Homo sapiens: one gene and its partners. The protein of the gene in region 1 purifies or fractionates together with the protein of each later gene. This does not show direct contact. Each region holds a gene or a part of one and is shown on either strand. Other genes may lie near its edges.

Region 1 (5,175 bases):
TGGGAGGATCACCTGAGCCTGGGGAGGTCGAGGCTGCAGTGAGTCACGATAATGCCATTGTACTCCAGCCTGGACAATGGATTGAGATCATGTCAAAAATAAATAAAAATAAAAAAAGATGGTGAGAAGTGGCTAAATTCATAAAGCAGGCAGGATGTGTGGATGAGTTAGATACTTAGAGTATGAGAAAAAGATGACATAATGAATTTTGACCTAAGCAGCTGGATGGAGTAGCACTTTAGTGAGGTGGAGAGGAAACAGTGATGGGGTTTAATTGGATATCCAATGGGAGATGTTAAGTAGTTCATTGCATATGAGAGTCTAGAGTTCAGGGAAGAGTTTCAGGAAGGAGACATAGGTTTGAGTATCATTAGCATGTTATTTATTTTTCCGTGAGCCAAGTCACTGCTGTATCACTAGTGCCCAGAATATTGTCTGGCACATTGTATATCCTCAATGGATATGTACTGAATGAGTGAATGGAACCACTTACTTACTAGAGTTGACTGCAAATCTTTGCTTTGGTGGATTTTGAAGTGTAACTCCTTGAAGTTATTTCCTTTCTTTACAAGGTCTCATGGGAGCCTTATTGTGGATCTTATGCACTAAAAAGAGGCTTTAAATGTGAAGGCTCCAATCGCTTATATCATACGGAAAGCAACGTGTGGTGACAAGAAAGAAAGAGGAACAAGTGGAAACCAAAAAATAGCTCATATTTTCAAAAAATGAGAAAAGATCCTTTAGAGGGAGGTGGCTGAAATTCAGGGGTGTGATGTTCTTGGGTTATTATTGTACTGCTCTTAATTTAAGATGAGGCAGAAGCAAGGAAGAATCTTGAAAGGGGAGAATTTTATTTAAATCAATTTATGCCGAGTGTCACCAGCTTGCTTGAGAAACCCCACATCTACAGTAGCTTGCATAATGTGTTCCTGTTTATAAAAGGAAGAAATAGGGAATAGCCTTCATAGGAAAAGGGGAGGGCTGGAATGACTTCAGCCTCAGGCTGTGGGTGCTGTCCATTTTCTTCTCGTGGTGTGTCTGATTCTATATAAGTTTTGTTTGCAATGATGTTGGTGAAGGGAGTGAAACAAGAAAAAGCAGGTACTGCTGTTGAAAGTGGTTGTGTGTGTGTGTGTGTGAGGGAGAGAGAGAGAGATGGAGAATGTGCCAGTGGCGGAGAAAAAGAACCAAATCCCAGAAGGAAGTGTGAGAAAGAGATGCAAGCTGCCCTTCATTTTTACGTGTGGTTACTAGGCCTGACCACATGGGGCTAGGATGGAGCAGTGGGCTTTAGCATCAGACAGAACTGGGTTTGCACTCAGACTTCATTACTTTATTTGTTTGTTTATTTATTTATTTATTTATTTATTTATTTTTTGAGATGGAGTATCCTTCTATCACCAGGCTGGAGTGTAGTGGCACAATCTTAGCTCACTGCAACCTCTGCCTCCCGGGTTCAAGCGATTCTCCTGCCTCAGCCTCCTGAGTAGCTGGGACTACAGGCACGTGCCACCACGCCCAGCTAATTTTTGTATTTTTAGTAGAGACGGGGTTTTACCATGTTGGCCAGGATGGTCTTGATCTCTTTACCTTGTTATCTGCCCGCCTTGGCCTCCCAAAGTGCTGGGATTACAGGCGTGAGCCACCGTGCCCGCTAACTTTCTATTTTTTTTTGAGACAGGGTCTCACTCTGTCAACCAGGCTGGAGTGCAGTGGCGTGAACTCAGCTCACTGCAGCCTTGACCTCCCGGGCTCAAGTGATCTTCCCATCTCAGCCTCCAAAGTAGCTGGGAATACAGGCATGCACCACCATGCCCGGCTAATTTTTAAATTTTTTTGTAGAGGTGGGATCTTGCTATGCTGCCCAGGCTGGTCTTGAACTCATGGGCTCAAGTGATTCTTCCACCTTAGTCCCCAAAGTGGTGGGATTATAGGTGTGAGTCACCATGCCCAGCCCAAGCTTCCTTACTTTCTAGCTGTGTAAACTTGAGCACATTATTTAATTTCCCTGAGCCTGGGTTTCCTCAGTTGTAAGGTGATGATGGTGGTGTGGTGTGGTGGTGGTGATGATGATGATGATAGTAATCATACCCCAGTGTTCTGCAGTCTCCTTCATGCTCCTGGACTTGGAACTATGTTGGTGTAAATATTGATTAAAGGATTACCATACCAGCTGAAGGACTTAAAGATTTTATGTGAAGGGAGAAATGAGAATTTGATGTTCACAGTGCCATTTAGAAGATTATTTCCATGGGGCCCATAATGTTCAAAATTAGACAAAGGGACAATAATAAAATGTCTAGCCTTATGGGCTAGACATTTCAAGGTGCCTCAGAGGAAAACTAACCTCCCTTCTCTGCAATAAGCCAATCTCCTTAGTTCAGTTCTGCAGTGTCGCATAGTTTGTTGGAATTCCATAATGAAAATTTTGGAGTCATGTGTAGTATATAGATGCAGAAGCTTTCCTGTCTGATGCCTTTGTGGCTCCCACAGAATCCACTGCATGGTGTTCTTCTGGAAAGGTCTGTGGTTCTTCCTGTTCCAGGCACATAGTAGGCACACTATACGTATTTATTAGATACATGGTGAATAAATGCTGCTGTGTTTTCTCTGTTGGCTGTGGCTCTCTTGGTTGCTCCTCCCGGCCTGGGCAAGAGATCAGCAGGTAAGTGACAGTGATGAGCTAAGTCTCTGGCAGGTACTCAGCAGCTAATGTTACCCTCTCTCCACCACCCTCATGCCTTGGCTACCATTCTGACATCCCCTAGATCAAGAATCATATACTCAGCTTTCCCTTTAAGCCCCCAGTTACATCGTCAGCAAAGCCAAAGCTCCCTTGCTGTCCTGACCTTTGATTACAGGTAACGCAACAGTGTCTCCTGACTTAGCAACAAAGACCCACACCTGGGTTCCCTGCTTCAGCTCCCACACAGAAGCCTGTGGTCCCGTTAAGTCTTCCTGTTTTCTATACACACTTCTGCTCCACCCACCTCCTGTTCCCTTCAGTTGTTAGAGCTTGATTCTGTATGGGTTGGCAGGGGAGAGAGTAGCATTAATTTTCTTTTCACAAAAGGCAATTGAAAATTCTCTCCTAACGGATGACTGTCTAGCCCCTCAGAACTGAACTTCTTCAGGAGGCAGATAGGCTACATCCTTCCTCCTGTGCCCATTTTACAGATGAGATATCTGAGGCGCAGAGAAAAGAAATGACAGACAAAAGTACCCTTGGAAAAGTGGATGCACAATCTCATTTGTTTCCTGCCAGCTCTGCATAGATGCAAGAGAAGGTAATTCTTCCAGACCGCTGGGGCCTTCTTGAATCACGGATGTCTGCATCCAGAAGCTGATTGTTGAATCACAGGTGTCTGGATTTGGAAGTTGACTGTTCAAACTGGGAGCTTGGTGCTGTTAAGTACTTCTTATGTCAACCCCAGGTGATATGTGTGTGGGCAGGAGCTCTAGGCTCCCAAAACTCACCTAGGTGTGATAGGTGTGATTTACAATTCTGTTTTCATGATCATTTCATGAGAGAAACCTGCAAATGAACACTGCTAAGGAGATGGAACAGAACACGTTAATGGATAAATGAGCTGTCTATCATTACCCCTGAGTGAGCGTGATTTGTTTTAATGAATATTTCATGGGCAGGTTCCTTTTCAGGTCCAGAATATGCTCAAGTCAATGAAGACCTTAATTGAACTGTAGGATCTTACAGTTTCAGAGCTCGAAGGGACCCTAGAAAGCGGGGAATCCAAACTTCTTATTATTCAAGGAAGGAAATAATTAAAAAAATTTTTTTGGTACATGTTCTTGCCCTGTTGCCCAGGCTGGAGTGTAGTGGCACAATCTTGGTCTCACTGCAACCTCTGCCTCTTGGGCCCAAGCAATCCTCTCACCTCAGCCTCCCAAGTAGCTGGAATTATAGGCGTGTCCCACCATACCTGGCTAATTTTTTAATTTTTTGTAGAGACGAGGTCTCATTATATTGCCCAGGCTGGATTTCCCAAGCAATCCTCCAGGCTTGGCCTCCCAAAGTGCTGGGATTACAGGCATGAACCACTGCATCCACCTCGGAAATAGCTTATTTGGGTGGATAAAAGAGCTGTCCGTCATTACTCACATTACAAATCACGCTCACTCAGGAGTAATGATGGACAGCTCATTTATCCATTAACGTGTTCTGTTCCTTCTTCTTAGCAGTGTTCATTTGCATGTTTCTCTCATGAAATGACCATGAAAACAGAATTGTAATTTATAAGAAAAGAGGTTTAATTGGCTCCTGGATTCATACAGTAAGTTAATGATGGAGAGAGGGTCAAAGCTCAGGTCGGGGCTGTAGCAATGTTAAGTTTGTATGAGAGGCCAAGAGAGAACAGGAAAACGGGGTGTGGGTCCCCTACACTGTCATGCTTAGAAACCCTCTGAAATGGCACAACTAGTTCTCCCAAGCAGGTGAGAGCCTGGTTAGGCCCCTCAACAGCCTCCTCTGATTGCTCAATCCTCTGGGATTTTCCCTGCCTGGCTCCCAGAGCCCAGGCCCAGTGAGGGTGGCTCCTGTGTTGCCTGCCATCCCTGCTCTATCGCACGCAGAATCTGACCGTGGCCTCTCGCCTGATCTGGGGTGCAGCAGATGGCGCCGAGGAATGGAGCCCAGCTGGCACGTGGGAGGCTCTGCGGGAGAGGAAGAGGCACCGTGGGGTGGCCTGCCCTAGGCAAAGTGCTGGGCCTGGGAGATGGGGCTGGAAAGGTCATGGGAATGTCGGGAGCCTCTGCCCTTGACCCTGGAGGGCTCAAGGAATTTAGTTCCACCCCTAGCACTATGACAAGTGACGAACACATCCCACACATGCCAGTGTAAGGGTCTGTGAATTAAATGCAGCCACTTTAATTTTTGTTTTTTAAAGCAAAGCATAAACATGAAGCTTTAAGGAAAGGAAAGCTATAGGGTAGCAATGTAAAGGCAGTAGCTTGAAACTTAAGGCAAAGAAGAGAAACTCAAATGGGACAATGGAGAAGTAGATGAGAAAGGGTATATGAAAACACGGTGGGGTGCTGAGCCAGCTTCTCCTATTTCCCATGATGGATAAGGTCTTTTTTTTGGTGGCGCCGCCCACGTCTGTGGCAGAAAAGCTGTGCTGGGCTCCCACCCTCATATCACAGGACTGGTGGCCGCCT
Region 2 (4,337 bases), on another chromosome or scaffold:
GTTAAGTATATTCACATTGTTGTTCAACAGATCTCTAGAACTTTTTCATCTTGCAAAACTGAAACTCTGTACCCATTGAACAACTGCCCATTCCCGCCCCAACCCAGCTGTCCTTGACAACCACTATTCTACTTTCTGTTTCTAGGAATTTGACCACTTTATACTTTGTGTCAGTGAGTCATATAGTATTTGTATTTTTGTGGTTGGCTTATTTCACTTATAATGTCTATAATGTTTATATTATCTTTACCTTTTCTTTTTTTTTTGAGACGGAGTCCTGCTCTGTCACCTAGGCTAGAGTGTAGTGGTGTGATCTTGGCTCACTGCAACCTCTGCCTCCGAGGTTCAAGTGATTCTCTTGCCTCAGCCTCCCAAGCAGCTGGGACTACAGGCGCGTGCACCATGCCTGGCTAATTTTTCCATTTTTAGTAGAGATGGTTTTTTTTTTTTTTAACCATGTTGGCCCGCTGGTCTCGAACTCCTGACCTCAGGTGATCTGCCCGCCTTGGCCTCTGAAAGTGCTGGGATTACAGGTGTGAGCCACTGCGCCTGGCCTATATTATCTCTAAATGTAAAGATATATTCTTTACGTTTAAAGAGGTATGGTCTTTACATCTGTCAATGGACATTTTGGTTGCTTTTACCTCTTGACTATTGTGAAACATGCTATAATTAACTTGAGTGTACAGATACCTCTTGGAGATCCTGTTTTTAATTATTTTGGATATATGCCCAGAAGTGGGGATTGCTAGATCATATGGTAGTCTATTTTTAATTTTTTGAAGAGCTTTCATACTGTTTTCCATTGTGGCTCATCATTTTACAATCCCACAAACGGTGTACAAGGTTTTCAGTTTCTCCACGCCCTCATCAACACTTGTTATTTTCTGTTTCTTTGATATGGGCTATCCTTATGAGTGTGAGGTGATATGTCATTGTGGTTTTGGTTTGCATTTTTCTAATGATTAAGGAAGTCAAGCATCTTTTCACATGCATGTTGGCCATTTAAAAATCTTTGGAGAAATGTCTGTTCAAGTCCTTTTTCCATTTTTAATTGAGTTTTGTTGTTGTTGGCCTGTAGGAGTTCTTTATGGATTCCAGATATTAATCCCTTGTGAGATATAGAATTTTCAATATATTGTCTCCTATTCTGTAGCTGGCCTTTTTACACTATTGATCATGTCCTTTGATATATATTGTTTTTAGTTTCGTTAAGGCCCATTTGTCTACTTTTGCTTTTGTTTGCCTCTGCTTTTGGTGTTATATTCAAGAAATCATTGCTAAATCCAGTGTCATGAAGCTTTTCCCTATGTTTTCTTCTAGGAGTTTTATATTGGGTCTTACATTTAGGTCTTTAACAGATTTTGAGTTAATTTTTTTTATATGGTATAAGATAGGGGTTCAGCTTCATTATTTTCCATATGGATATCTAGTTTTTCCATTACCATTTGTTGAAGAGACTGTCATTTCCCCATTGCGTGGTCTTGGCATCCCTATTGAAGATCATTTGACCATATAGATGAGGATTTATTTCTGGGCTTTCTGTTGTTCATTAGTCTATATATCTGTATTTATGCCAATACCACACTGTTTTGATTACTATTGCTTTGTAATATATTTTAAATTTAGTACATATAAGACTTCCATCCTTGTTCTTTTTCAAGATTGTTTTGGATGTTTGGGGATTTCTTGAGATTCCATATGAATTTTGGGATGTTTTTTCTATTTTTGCAAAAAATGCCATTGGGATTGCATTGAATCTGTACATTGTTTTGTAGAATAGACATTTGAACAATATTAAGTCTTCTAATTTATGAACACGGGATGTCTTTTTATTGTACTCTTTAATTTCTTTCAGCAGTGTTTTGTTTTTAGCGTATAAGTCTTTTACCTACTTGCTTAAGTTTATTCCTAAGTATTTTATTCTTTTGATGCAATTGTTAATGGGATTGTGTTCTTAATTTCCTTTTCAGATTGTTCATTCTTAGGATATAGAAATATAACTGATTTTTGTGTGTTGTGTATCCTACAACTTTGCTGAATTTATTAGTTCTAACAGCTTTTTTTTTTGGTGTAGAATCTTTAGGGTTTCTACATATAAGATATGTCATCTGTGAATAGAGATAATTTTACTTCTTCCTTTCCAGTTTGGATGCCTTTATTTCTTTTTCTTGCCTCATTGCTCTGGCTAGAACTTCCTGTGCTATGTTGAGTAGAAGTGATGAGTGGACATCTTTGTCTTATTCCTGATCTTAGAAGAAAAACTTCCAGTATTTCAAAATTGGGTATGATGTTAGCTGTGGGCTCATCATAAATGACCTTTATTATGCTGTGATACTTTTCCTTTTGTTGCCCTCCCTCCGTTTTTTTTTTTGCCTATATATCCCCAACCTTTTCACAGAACAGTGCTCACATTCTTTATACCAAACTTGTTTTTACCCTGAGAAGATCTTACCCTGTAGTCTTCTTGAGTGGAAGCTGCCTTGTCCTTTCTTTCTTCTTCTTCTTTTTTTTTTCCCCCATCAGGTCATTTTATTATTATGGTTTTTACAAATTTTGTTTTATTTTAATAGTTTTTGGGGAACAGGTGGTGGTTTGTGGTTACATAGATAAGTTCTTTAGTGGTGATTTCTGAGATATTGGTGCACCCGTTACCCGAGCAGCGTACACTGTACCCAGTGTGTAGTCTTTTATTCCTCACCCCACTCCCACCTTTCCCCCTGAGTCCCCAAAGTCCCTTATATCATTCTCATGCCTTTGTGCCCTCATAGCTTAGCTCTCACTTATAAATGAGAATATATGATATTTGGCTTTCCATTCCTGAGTTACTTCGCTTAGAGTAATGGTCTCCAACTCCATCCAGGTTGCTGCAAGTGCCATTCTTTCTTTTTTTTTTTTTTTTTTTGAGCCGGAGTCTCGCTCTGTCGCCCAGGCTGGAGTGCAGTGGCACGATCTCGGCTCACTGCAAGCTCCGCCTCCCGGCTTCATGCCATTCTGCCTCAGCCTCCCAAGTAGCTGGGACTACAGGTGCCTGCCACCGCACCCAGCTAATTTTTTGTATTTTTAGTAGAGACGGGGTTTCATCGTGTTAGCCAGGATGGTCTCGATCTCCTGACCTCGTGATCCGCCCGCCTCGGCCTCCCAACATGCTGGGATTACAGGCGTGAGCCACCGCGCCCGGCCCATTATTTCAGTTTATTTTATGGCTGAGTAGTATTCCATGGTGTATATATACCACATTTTCTTTAGCCACTTGTTGGTTGATGGGCATTTAGGTTGGTTCCATATTTCTGCAATTGCAAATTTTGCTGCTATAAACATGCATATGCAAGTGTCTTTTTCATATAATGACTTATTTTCCTTTGGGTAGATACCCAGTAGTGGGATTGCTGGATTTAATGGTAGTTCCGCTTTTAGTTATTTAAGGAATCTCCATACTGTTTTCCATAGTGGTTGTATTAATTTACATTCCCACCAGCAGCGTAAGTGTTCCCTTTTCACCATATCCATGCCAACATCTGTTATTTTTTAATTTTTTAATTGTGGCCATTCTTGCAGGAGTAAGGTGGTATCTCATTATTTTTTTTAATTTGCATTTCCCTGATGATTAGTGATATTGAGATTTTTTTCATATACTTCTTGGCCATCTGTATATCTTTTGAGAATTGTCTATTCATGTCCTTAGGCCACTTTTTGATGGAATTATTTTTTTTTTCTTGCTGATTTGTTTGAGTTCCTCTGTGGTGGAGTGCCAGTAGGGAACAAGGACCTCTTCTCCAAGGCCCTATGTGATCACAGAGGCTGCCTGCCTATTGGGGTTTAGGTGCAACTTTCCCTACTGTGTCCAGTGCTGCAATTTTGTCTCTGCTGTGAGAAACTACCCACAAGCAGAAGGATCTGGAACTCAAGGCCTGCTCTTCAGATTCTTTTGTCCCATGAGGCGATATCTTGATGTGGTGCTCTCCTGCTCCTCCTAGGGATGGGGCTTCCTGAGAACCAAAGTGCAGTGATTGTTACTGGTCTTCTGGATCTAGCCATCCAGCAGGGATAGCGGGCTCTAGGCTGGTGCTGGGGAATGTCTGAAAAGAGTCCTGTGATGTAATCCATATTCAGGTCTCTCAGCCATGGGTACCAGCACCTGCTGTGGTGGAGGTGGCAGGGGAATGATGTAGACTCTGTGAGGATCCTTGGCTATAGATAGGTTTAGTGTGCTGGCTTTCTTGAATGCTGGTTATGCAAGCGGTGAAGTTGTCACATGGATAGACTCAGGACCTTTGGTTAGCCAGGATGTTGCAGGCAGTGGTATTAGCTGTTGTTTTCTCCTTCTCGGGAGCAGT
Region 3 (4,337 bases), on another chromosome or scaffold:
TGAAGCTGCCTCTGTGCACATTACACCCATGAACTTAGACCAGTTGCCTTTATGTATGATCGTATTTATACTGAGAAGTTACTGTGTTTTTTGACTTTCTTTTCTATTTGCTACATATTAGTTCGGTCTAAACGTTTGGTCTTCTGGTCTCCATAGTTCTACATTGGTTAAATGCAACTCACTTCTGGGAGTAGTGGTGACATTCAACTAGTAGGCTTTTTAATAAACTACAGAAGTTCATTACTCTCATGTAAGGAAGGAAAACTAATGTAACTTTCGTTAAGTATGAAAAGCGTTGGATATCCTTATAGTTCTTTAGAGTTAAGGGTGAGATGGGTTTAGAAAGTGGCCAGGCACAAGTTATTTTAAAATAAAAAATCTTTGGCTGTTTGTTCCAATATATTAATAGTTTTCCCTTTTTTACAGCAACGCAGTGTGCATATTTTATCTGGTTCTCCGAGCTCTGGACACACTGGAAGATGACATGACCATCAGTGTGGAAAAGAAGGTCCCGCTGTTACACAACTTTCACTCTTTCCTTTACCAACCAGACTGGCGGTTCATGGAGAGCAAGGAGAAGGATCGCCAGGTGCTGGAGGACTTCCCAACGGTGAGTGGGGTTACGCATCTTGTCTACGGACTGTTGTGTTCATAATTGCTAACGTGGTTGTCCGGTAGCCTCCATACATGTGGAGAAAGGTTAAATAAGCATTCTGAGGGCAGCATAATGTGAGGGTTAAAAACTCCGGTAGCCAAGACTCTGAAGCCAGGCTGCCTGGGTTGGAATCTCAAATCTCCCACTTACTAAACTGTTGGTTACTTACAAAGACTCTCTGTGCCTCAGTTTCTTCATCTGTAAAATAGGGGTAATAATAACACCTACCTCATGGTATTCTGAGGATTCAAAGAATTAACGTAGGTAATGCTCTTAGAATGTTAGCTACTGCTGTTATTATCAGTATTGGAAGTCCAGTGTTTCTTCCTGTGGGAAGACGCAGTCAAATTTTAGTGTTGTGAAAGATTCTCAGGCTAGCTCACAAAAGCCTGCCGACTGTATGATGCAGCCTACCTGTAACACTGCTGGCCTCTTGACTACCCGGAGCCTGGTAGCATGGGACTGCTGCTCACGATGGGCAGCAGCCTGGCATGGGGGCGGTGTCTGTTGGCAGCTAGGGCGAGCCTCTGCCACTTCACCTGTGATCCTGGGCAAGTTCCTTATCTGCTTTGTGTCTCCGTCTCCTCGTTTGTAAAGTTAGAGCTGAGAGGATTAATTTCGCACATATAAAGTACTTAGTGCCTGGTACAGGGTAAGTATTCTGTAAGTATTAGCTATTTGGTCTATTTTGTTGGAGTAAAGTGGGTTATAGTTAAAATCCTAAGATTTTTAAAGTCCCTCAAGTTCATGTGGACATCTGCCTAGGTCCTACTATCCTAGAATTCGCATGTCTTATCACACAAATAACTGATTCTTCCATATCTTATAAATAAAGGTTTGATTTAGCAAAGTCACATGTTGTGTAATAGCTCGAAGAAGCCCTTTTTGTCCACAGTTGCCAGAGCTTTTGGAGAACAGTCCTTATGTTATTGAAACAAACCTAATCTGTAGCTGAGTTGGGAGGGAGCTAAGTGGACAGAGAGTCCTCCACCCAAACAAAAGAATCTTTGATTCTTGGGCATAATGGGAGCAATATTTAAAAAAAAAAAAAAAAAAAAAAAAAGGAATGTTTGGGGAAGACTCTTGCGGTGCAAAGGCTGTTTCAGATTGCTGAGATCAGACCTTAAGTACCAAAGCCCAAATATAGTACAACATAATACAAATGAGAAGAAAATAGCTGAAGAATAATTCGAGTTTATACAGTACAATTCAAGAGAAGAAAGAAAATTTATGACGACTAGCTGGGTGAGAATTAGAACTGTAACCCTGGGAAGGTCCTGGTGATTTGACTCTCACAGGACACCTGATGACCAGAGGATGGGTTTCCTTTGATGGGAAATCTGTGGCGATTCATTGATGGGCCTCTGAATTCTGCTGAAGCAGAGGAAGTAGTAATACCCCATTTATAATGGAAGTGCATTCTCACTTAAAAACAACTAATATTATTCTAGCTGGACCTAGCCTCTAGAAACAGCCAAATTACATTTGACTTGAGTGGATTCATAATAATTAAAAAATTTCTGGGGCATGGGATAAATGTGTTAGGTATTGCTAAGTCAAGGCAGCCCTATCCCCTCAGCAGAAGTGAGGGAATATGAAAGTGTGTGAATGCTAACATAATTTTGGGGAATATCGCCGTCAGATTTCCAGATGATATTCCAACATGTTTGTGAAACTTCAGTGTCTTCCTGTGTTCATACAGTGTTCCAGTGGAAAAATAATGCTTAGTTCTGGAAGGTTTCAGATGTGAACACTGAACTCATCGTTTTCTTTTTTGGGTAGTAGAGTTAGAGATTCCATCCTCTTGAAAGCACAGTTGCCCCGGGAAGAGTAAAAGGGAGCAGAAGGCGTAAGCCAGGCACGGCTGTTTTCACTGTTGTTCACCTTTTGTATCCTTACGAATATGAAGATGTACTAAGTTGTGTGTTTTGCGTGCATATATAATTTTAAGCTACTTGAGTTGTAGGTCCCTCCAGTCTGTGATTCAGTTTGAGATGGGACTGTATGGGAATTAACAGTGCCTTGTCTTCTTAAGGAGTGATTTGTGTATGTGCTGATATAGCTCAGTATGTCTTTGAAACCAGTTGTCTGGGGCTAGGCCTGCAATCAGCTTTTGGCTAAGAGGTCCCAGGATGGAACAAGTAGTGTGAAAGAGGACTGATACCTTGGCCTCACACACAGTACTGCTCTTAGACTGGGGCAAGTGAAACTCCTCACTTCAGAGTGCCCCATTCTAGGCCCCCTCACTCCCAAAGGGGTGAGGGATCACTGGGGCCATGGGAATGTGCTTGTTCAGCTCTCGTGGGCTCTCCTTCTGTACCACGTTCTGGACATCTGGAGTTCCTTGCCCCAAATCCCTGAGCCCACGTCTGCGTCCGCACAGTCTATTTCCTAAGGTCAGTCCATCTCCTCCAGGTGGGAACGTGCCACCATTGACTGTGCCCTTGGGCCTGAGTGATGGCCAAGGGCTGTGTTGGGGAGTGTTGTGGATGGATCCTGGCACCGAGGGCTGGGATATCCTCTCAAATGAATGTGAGGTGCCTCCCAGTGCTGGAGAGAGCGGGATTCAGGAAGCAGTGGAAGGGAAGAGCCTGGGATATGGGGATCAGCTGTCTGTGCCCTGCTGCATTCTGGAATAAAACTCTGAGGGACTAAGAATTCTAAATTCAAACCTGAATCAACCAGGTTGTTACAAAGATAAGTTTGTCAGTGCAGGAGGATACAATATATTTTACTTAAGTTACTAGCTCGATTGATCATTTTTAAATTTTTAGCTACATATAGTATGTGGGCCTCCATTTGTCCTCTTATCCCAGGCCTTGCAGAATTTAGGAATAAGCCTCAATACAGTGTTCTAACCCAGTGACTTCCGCCTCGATGTACAGTAGATTGAACCTGATCCTTTATACTTTAGTGATCATTAGTTGATACCAGTTCAAGTCAGGCTTTCTAGAAATCTCATTGTATGTTAGGGGTTCGATTAGAGTACAGTCATGCATCACTTAATGAATGGCCACAGGATACATTCTGAGAAACGCATTGATAGATGATTTCATCATTCTGTGAACATCATAGAGTGTACTTACACATACCAAGATGGCATAGCTACTACAGACGTAGGCTCTGTGGTACAGGCCATTGCTCCAAGGCTGCACATCTCTACAGGATGGTACTGTACTGAATACTGTAGGCAATTGGAGCACAGTGGTAAGTATTTGTGTATTTAAACATAGAAAAGGTATAGTAAAAACAGGGTGTTACAGTCTTAAGGGCCCACCATTGTATTTCCAGTCTCCGTTGACTGAAACATCATTATACAGTACATGAGCACGTATCTTTCTCACCTGGTACTAGTGGAAAGCTAGAAGGCTTAGAAGTCTACCTGTAAACATAGCTTAAGTAATAATACAGCCTTATTTTTAAATGATAATAGCAATAATAGTGTTCACTTATTGAGCATTTTACTATGAGTTACTTACTAAATATATTTCATCGTTAATTTACTCTTTGTGTTATTTGATCTATAACATCGTTTAACAGGGAAATTACCTAGTACATAATGTACTGTTATCTACATTTTATCTAGATGAGGAAACTGAGGCACAGAGAAATTAAGTACTTTGCCTAGGATTACCCGTGAAGTTAAGTGACAGAATCAATGAATCTGGAAGGTCTGGCTTCA
Region 4 (4,337 bases), on another chromosome or scaffold:
TAGTTAATAAACAAGCTGTGTGACATTAAGCTATGTTTCTCTCTAGCTTTCTGGAGATAGTACTGAATTCCCAAAACACAGCGTGATTTATTTTTTGTGATAGTGTGCATCAGCAAAAGGGCATATATTAGATGCTTGGAAAATGCTTTGCTATAGATTTATGTCTTTTTACTATTTGTCTTCATATATAATTATTGGGGGCAACTTTAGTTTTTTCTATTTCTCTTTTCAGAAAGAATAACAATTTTTTCGCCTTCTTATCTATATGTTTCATTGTGGACTATCAGTACTGTTCTTCATTTAAAATGCAAATGTTCTAATAATCTACAATCATAACCTTATGGTAGAACTGATACAGACATTGTAATCTCTAAGCCTCTGAAAATAGTGTTCTGCATTTTTATTGTAATCTCTAAGCCTCTGAAAATAGTGTTCTGCATTTTTATTCTAGAAGAGAGCTACTGCTCCTCATCAATGAGAGAGTGGGATTAAAAGGAACATGAGTAAGGATTATATTTGCAGAGCCTATCTATTTATTCAACAGTATTGTTGAATAATAACATTTCTTAAGTATCATCTTCCCTCAATATATGTGGGGGATTGGTTCCAGAATCGCCCTCCCCCCGCCACTGCATATTCCAAAATTCATGCATACTGAAGTCCCACAGTTGCTTCTAGGACATCAGCCATTCCGGTACTTGGGTTTTGTGGCGGGCAAATACTATATTTTTTATCTGTGGTTGGTTCAAAAAAAATTCACACATAAGTGGACCCCCCACAGTTCAAACTCATGTTCAAGGTTTAGCTGTATCTATTTTGTAGCAGAATCTAGGGAAACTTAGAAAGAGAATGACCTTTTCTATGAAACTTAATTTTGTTTCAGACAATAACATTCTGATAAGAGCTGAGTTTTACTCTTTTGTTAGCACTGTCAGTTTTCTCAACCATAGAATGAGAATGATAAAATAACCATCTCGGCTGGGCACGGTAGCTCACTCCTCTAATCCCAGCACTTTGGGAGGCCGAGGTGGGCGGATCACCTGAGGTTGAGAGTTCGAGACCAGCCTGACCAACAGGAAGAAACCCTGTCGCTACTAAAAATACAAAATTAGCCGGGTGTGGTGGTGCACGCCTGTAATCCCAGGTACTCGGGAGGCTGAGGCAGGAGAATCACTTGAACCCAGGAGGTGGAGGTTGCGGTGAGCCGAGATCGCGCCATTGCACTCCGGCCTGGGCAACAAGAGCGAAACTCCATCTCAGAAACAAACAAAACAAAAAACAAAATAACCATCTCATAAAGTTCTTGTGAAGAGTAAATAAGATAGTACATTTAAAGTACTTAACCCAGCACCTGGCATACAACAAACACTTCGTTATTTTAGATTTACTGTGAGACTTCGTCCAAAGTTACCTCTTAGGTATTTATTTTCCTCTGTTCCTCCCTTCTTATTTTTCTCCAAATTGTCATCAAAGATAAATTTCTAAAACAAAAATCTGATTGTATAACTACCTCTTTGATACCATCTTTTCAGCTTTGAAAACCTTTAGTGGTTTCCTGTTGTCTGAAGAGGAATGCCTCAAATACATGGATGGTATTCAGCATCTTCCCACGTGGCCCTAGCCTTCCTTCCCAAACCATCTTCTGCCTTGACCACCCACTGGGTTGCAGCCCAAGTAGGCCACACAGTTTTATTTTGCTACCTTGGCTTGTTGTCTTCCTTCTGTCTAGAATTCCTGCTGTGGGCCTCACCTCCTCATCACCCCACAACCTGAAGAAACAACTGTCTATGGGAAACTCAAAGATTTCTCTTCTTTCTAGGCAGAATTTTTGGTTCCTGTTCATTCATCTCTTTTTAGCATTTATTATGATATCAAAGGTAATTCTATATGTCTTGCTCTCTTACTAGCTCATGAGTTCCTTCAGAGCAGAGGCCATAGTTTATTCATCATTGTGATAACATTGATGAGTGCCACTAGAACTCAGTAGGCACTCTGTAAAAATTTGTTGAAGTAATGTATTAATATTTGGTTTAATTTTATTTTGATTTCAGTGTGTTTTTATTCTAGGTCCTTGGCCTTGTCCAAAACATGAGTGTTTTCCAGTGTCCAAAATGTAAACACAAAACTCATATTTTTGGTGCTGATGGTGCAAGGAAACTAGCACAGACCCTTGGTCTTGAAGTTCTAGGTAAGACTGTGGGATGTTCTTTTGTAGAAGAAGTGGCAGAAGAGAAAGTGGGGATGAGGCTTGATGATTAAGAGTGTCTCAGAGGCCGGGCACGGAGTCTCACACCTGTAATCCCAGCACTTTGGGAGGTCGAGGTGGACAGATCACGAGGTCAGGAGATCGAGACCATCCTGGCTAACATGGTGAGACCCTGTCTCTACTAAAAATACAAAAAATTATCCAGGCGTGGTGGCGGGCGCCTGCAGTCCCAGCTACTCAGGAGGCTGAGGCAGGAGAATGGCATGAACCCTGGAGGCGGAGCTTGCAGTGAGCTGAGATAGCACCACTGCACTCCAGCCTGGGTGACAGAGTGAGACTCCATCAAAAAAAAAACAAAAAACAAAAAACAGTGTCTCTGAAAATGATGAGTTGCTTTTGGCTTTGTGTTTTAAATTAATATAGCACAGTTCTATGTGTTAACCTTTCTTTGGCTTTTTTGAATAGGTTTGTTCTGTCAACTATGATAATTTCTATTTTAAATAAAAACTGTCTATAACTTAAATTTGAGAATAGAGTTTTGTAGTCCAAGTACTGTAATTTGAAGCCATATTTTAAATGATACTCATCAGTGTGTTTGCTAAGTTGGGTGTACATCTCTCAGTAGAAACAGGTACATTAAAATGTCTGTTCCGTATGTTGTAAAAACCTCTAAAAGTGTTCGTTCTTAGTGCATATGTAAAAATGCCTTCCTGATTAATTCTTTGTTAGTCTTTCTGCTTTAGAATGGCAGTATTTACTGTTTTCTGTAATATTTAATGTGTTTGATATGTCTTTAAAATATGGCACCTGAAATTTACATTGTACGCACTGTTCATGGCACTGAACTGAAGAGTTCATTAGTGCTGTGAGGAAAACTAAAATCATGTGTTAAATAAGCAAAACACAGGTTTTGGATAAAACATGATGTTCCAAAAATCCACAGGCAACTTAACAGACTTTTTAGAAAACATGTTTTGATATTCTAATTGTGAATGGGTTTCTGTTCTTGCCAAAGGCAGGTGTTAGATGCTGAATAGGGAAGGCATAAAGTGAATTATTAGACTTAGGTAGTTAAAAATTAAGATCCCTAGAGATTAAGGAATTTCAAAACATTCTCTGTTATAATTAAGTTTCTAAAAGTTGATGTTAAATATATTATTGTTATGCATTTGCACTATAGCAGCCACTACAATACCAGGTGAATACTAATGATATATTTTGATACATTGCTATAATTATAGCCACTAATTATATTCTGCAACTGTTTTTCATTTAACCCAGAAAGTTCAATTTTCCAAATCTGCATAATAACAGATTGACATTCGCTTATATAATAAAGTAAATGTGTAATTATAATGGCATTATTGAATTATACTGACAACATTGTAATTTCCTAACTTACAAATGAGCTGAACAATTTCCTAAGTCAGTTATTTAGAATTTGAAACATTTCATTGAGAAACAATGGTATGTATGGAAGTTACATTTTAACCAATGGCTCACAGATGTACAATTACCCTAAAAATGTATCAAAAACACTGACTACTGATCACAAAAATTTGATGGTGCCCTAGACTGCTATGTCTGACAGTGTTAGGGGAAAAATCATTTAGAATTCCTCGTTAGGGCACGTCCCCTCCTTTTAATGTAGTCATGGGTCCCATGGTGTCTCCCATGAAGTGGAGCAGGGCTTCAATTATGAAGAGGTTGGAATTGGGAATGAGGAACTGAAATCAGGGAAAAAGCTTTCACAGCTCTGGCCTCTTGGCCAGTTGAACCTCCTGGGAACCCTTATTTGTCCTTTACTGACTCCCTGGCAGACTCTTAATTCAGTGGGTCGTGTTTTAAATGATTATTTGGTACGATAGCTCTTGAGAACCTTATCTGTATTTACCTACAGGGACAGTTTATGCATAGTAGTTAAGGTCTCAGACCATCTCACAGAAAACCCTTTAACCTATTATATGTCTGAAATGTTTCCTCATTTCTTTCAGACTTAGCACCTCAAAAATACTTCTCAGGCTCAGACTGCTCCTCACTCACTTTTACTTTTTAAAAATCCCTGTCTAGATACAACAATTAGCCCATTACCATTCTTACTACGCACCTATTTTTAACAAGATTTTTCCCC

Evidence for each region.
Region 2: the proteins of SV2B (region 1) and AGK purify together in Homo sapiens (affinity purification with mass spectrometry; one large-scale study listed by BioGRID and IntAct). This does not show direct contact.
Region 3: the proteins of SV2B (region 1) and FDFT1 purify together in Homo sapiens (affinity purification with mass spectrometry; one large-scale study listed by BioGRID and IntAct). This does not show direct contact.
Region 4: the proteins of SV2B (region 1) and NUBPL purify together in Homo sapiens (affinity purification with mass spectrometry; one large-scale study listed by BioGRID and IntAct). This does not show direct contact.

Annotation. Positions count from the first base shown.
Region 1 is NC_000015.10:91,105,954-91,111,128, forward strand, and holds part of SV2B (synaptic vesicle glycoprotein 2B), read left to right. Parts: intron 1-5,175.
Region 2 is NC_000007.14:141,557,910-141,562,246, forward strand, and holds part of AGK (acylglycerol kinase, mitochondrial isoform 1 precursor), read left to right. Parts: intron 1-4,337. UniProt on the Homo sapiens protein: Lipid kinase that can phosphorylate both monoacylglycerol and diacylglycerol to form lysophosphatidic acid (LPA) and phosphatidic acid (PA), respectively. Does not phosphorylate sphingosine. Phosphorylates ceramide.
Region 3 is NC_000008.11:11,809,241-11,813,577, forward strand, and holds part of FDFT1 (squalene synthase), read left to right. Parts: exon of another isoform or gene 1-250; intron 251-426; coding exon 427-610; intron 611-4,337. UniProt on the Homo sapiens protein: Catalyzes the condensation of 2 farnesyl pyrophosphate (FPP) moieties to form squalene. Proceeds in two distinct steps.
Region 4 is NC_000014.9:31,844,404-31,848,740, forward strand, and holds part of NUBPL (iron-sulfur cluster transfer protein NUBPL isoform 1 precursor), read left to right. Parts: intron 1-2,067; coding exon 2,068-2,188; intron 2,189-4,337.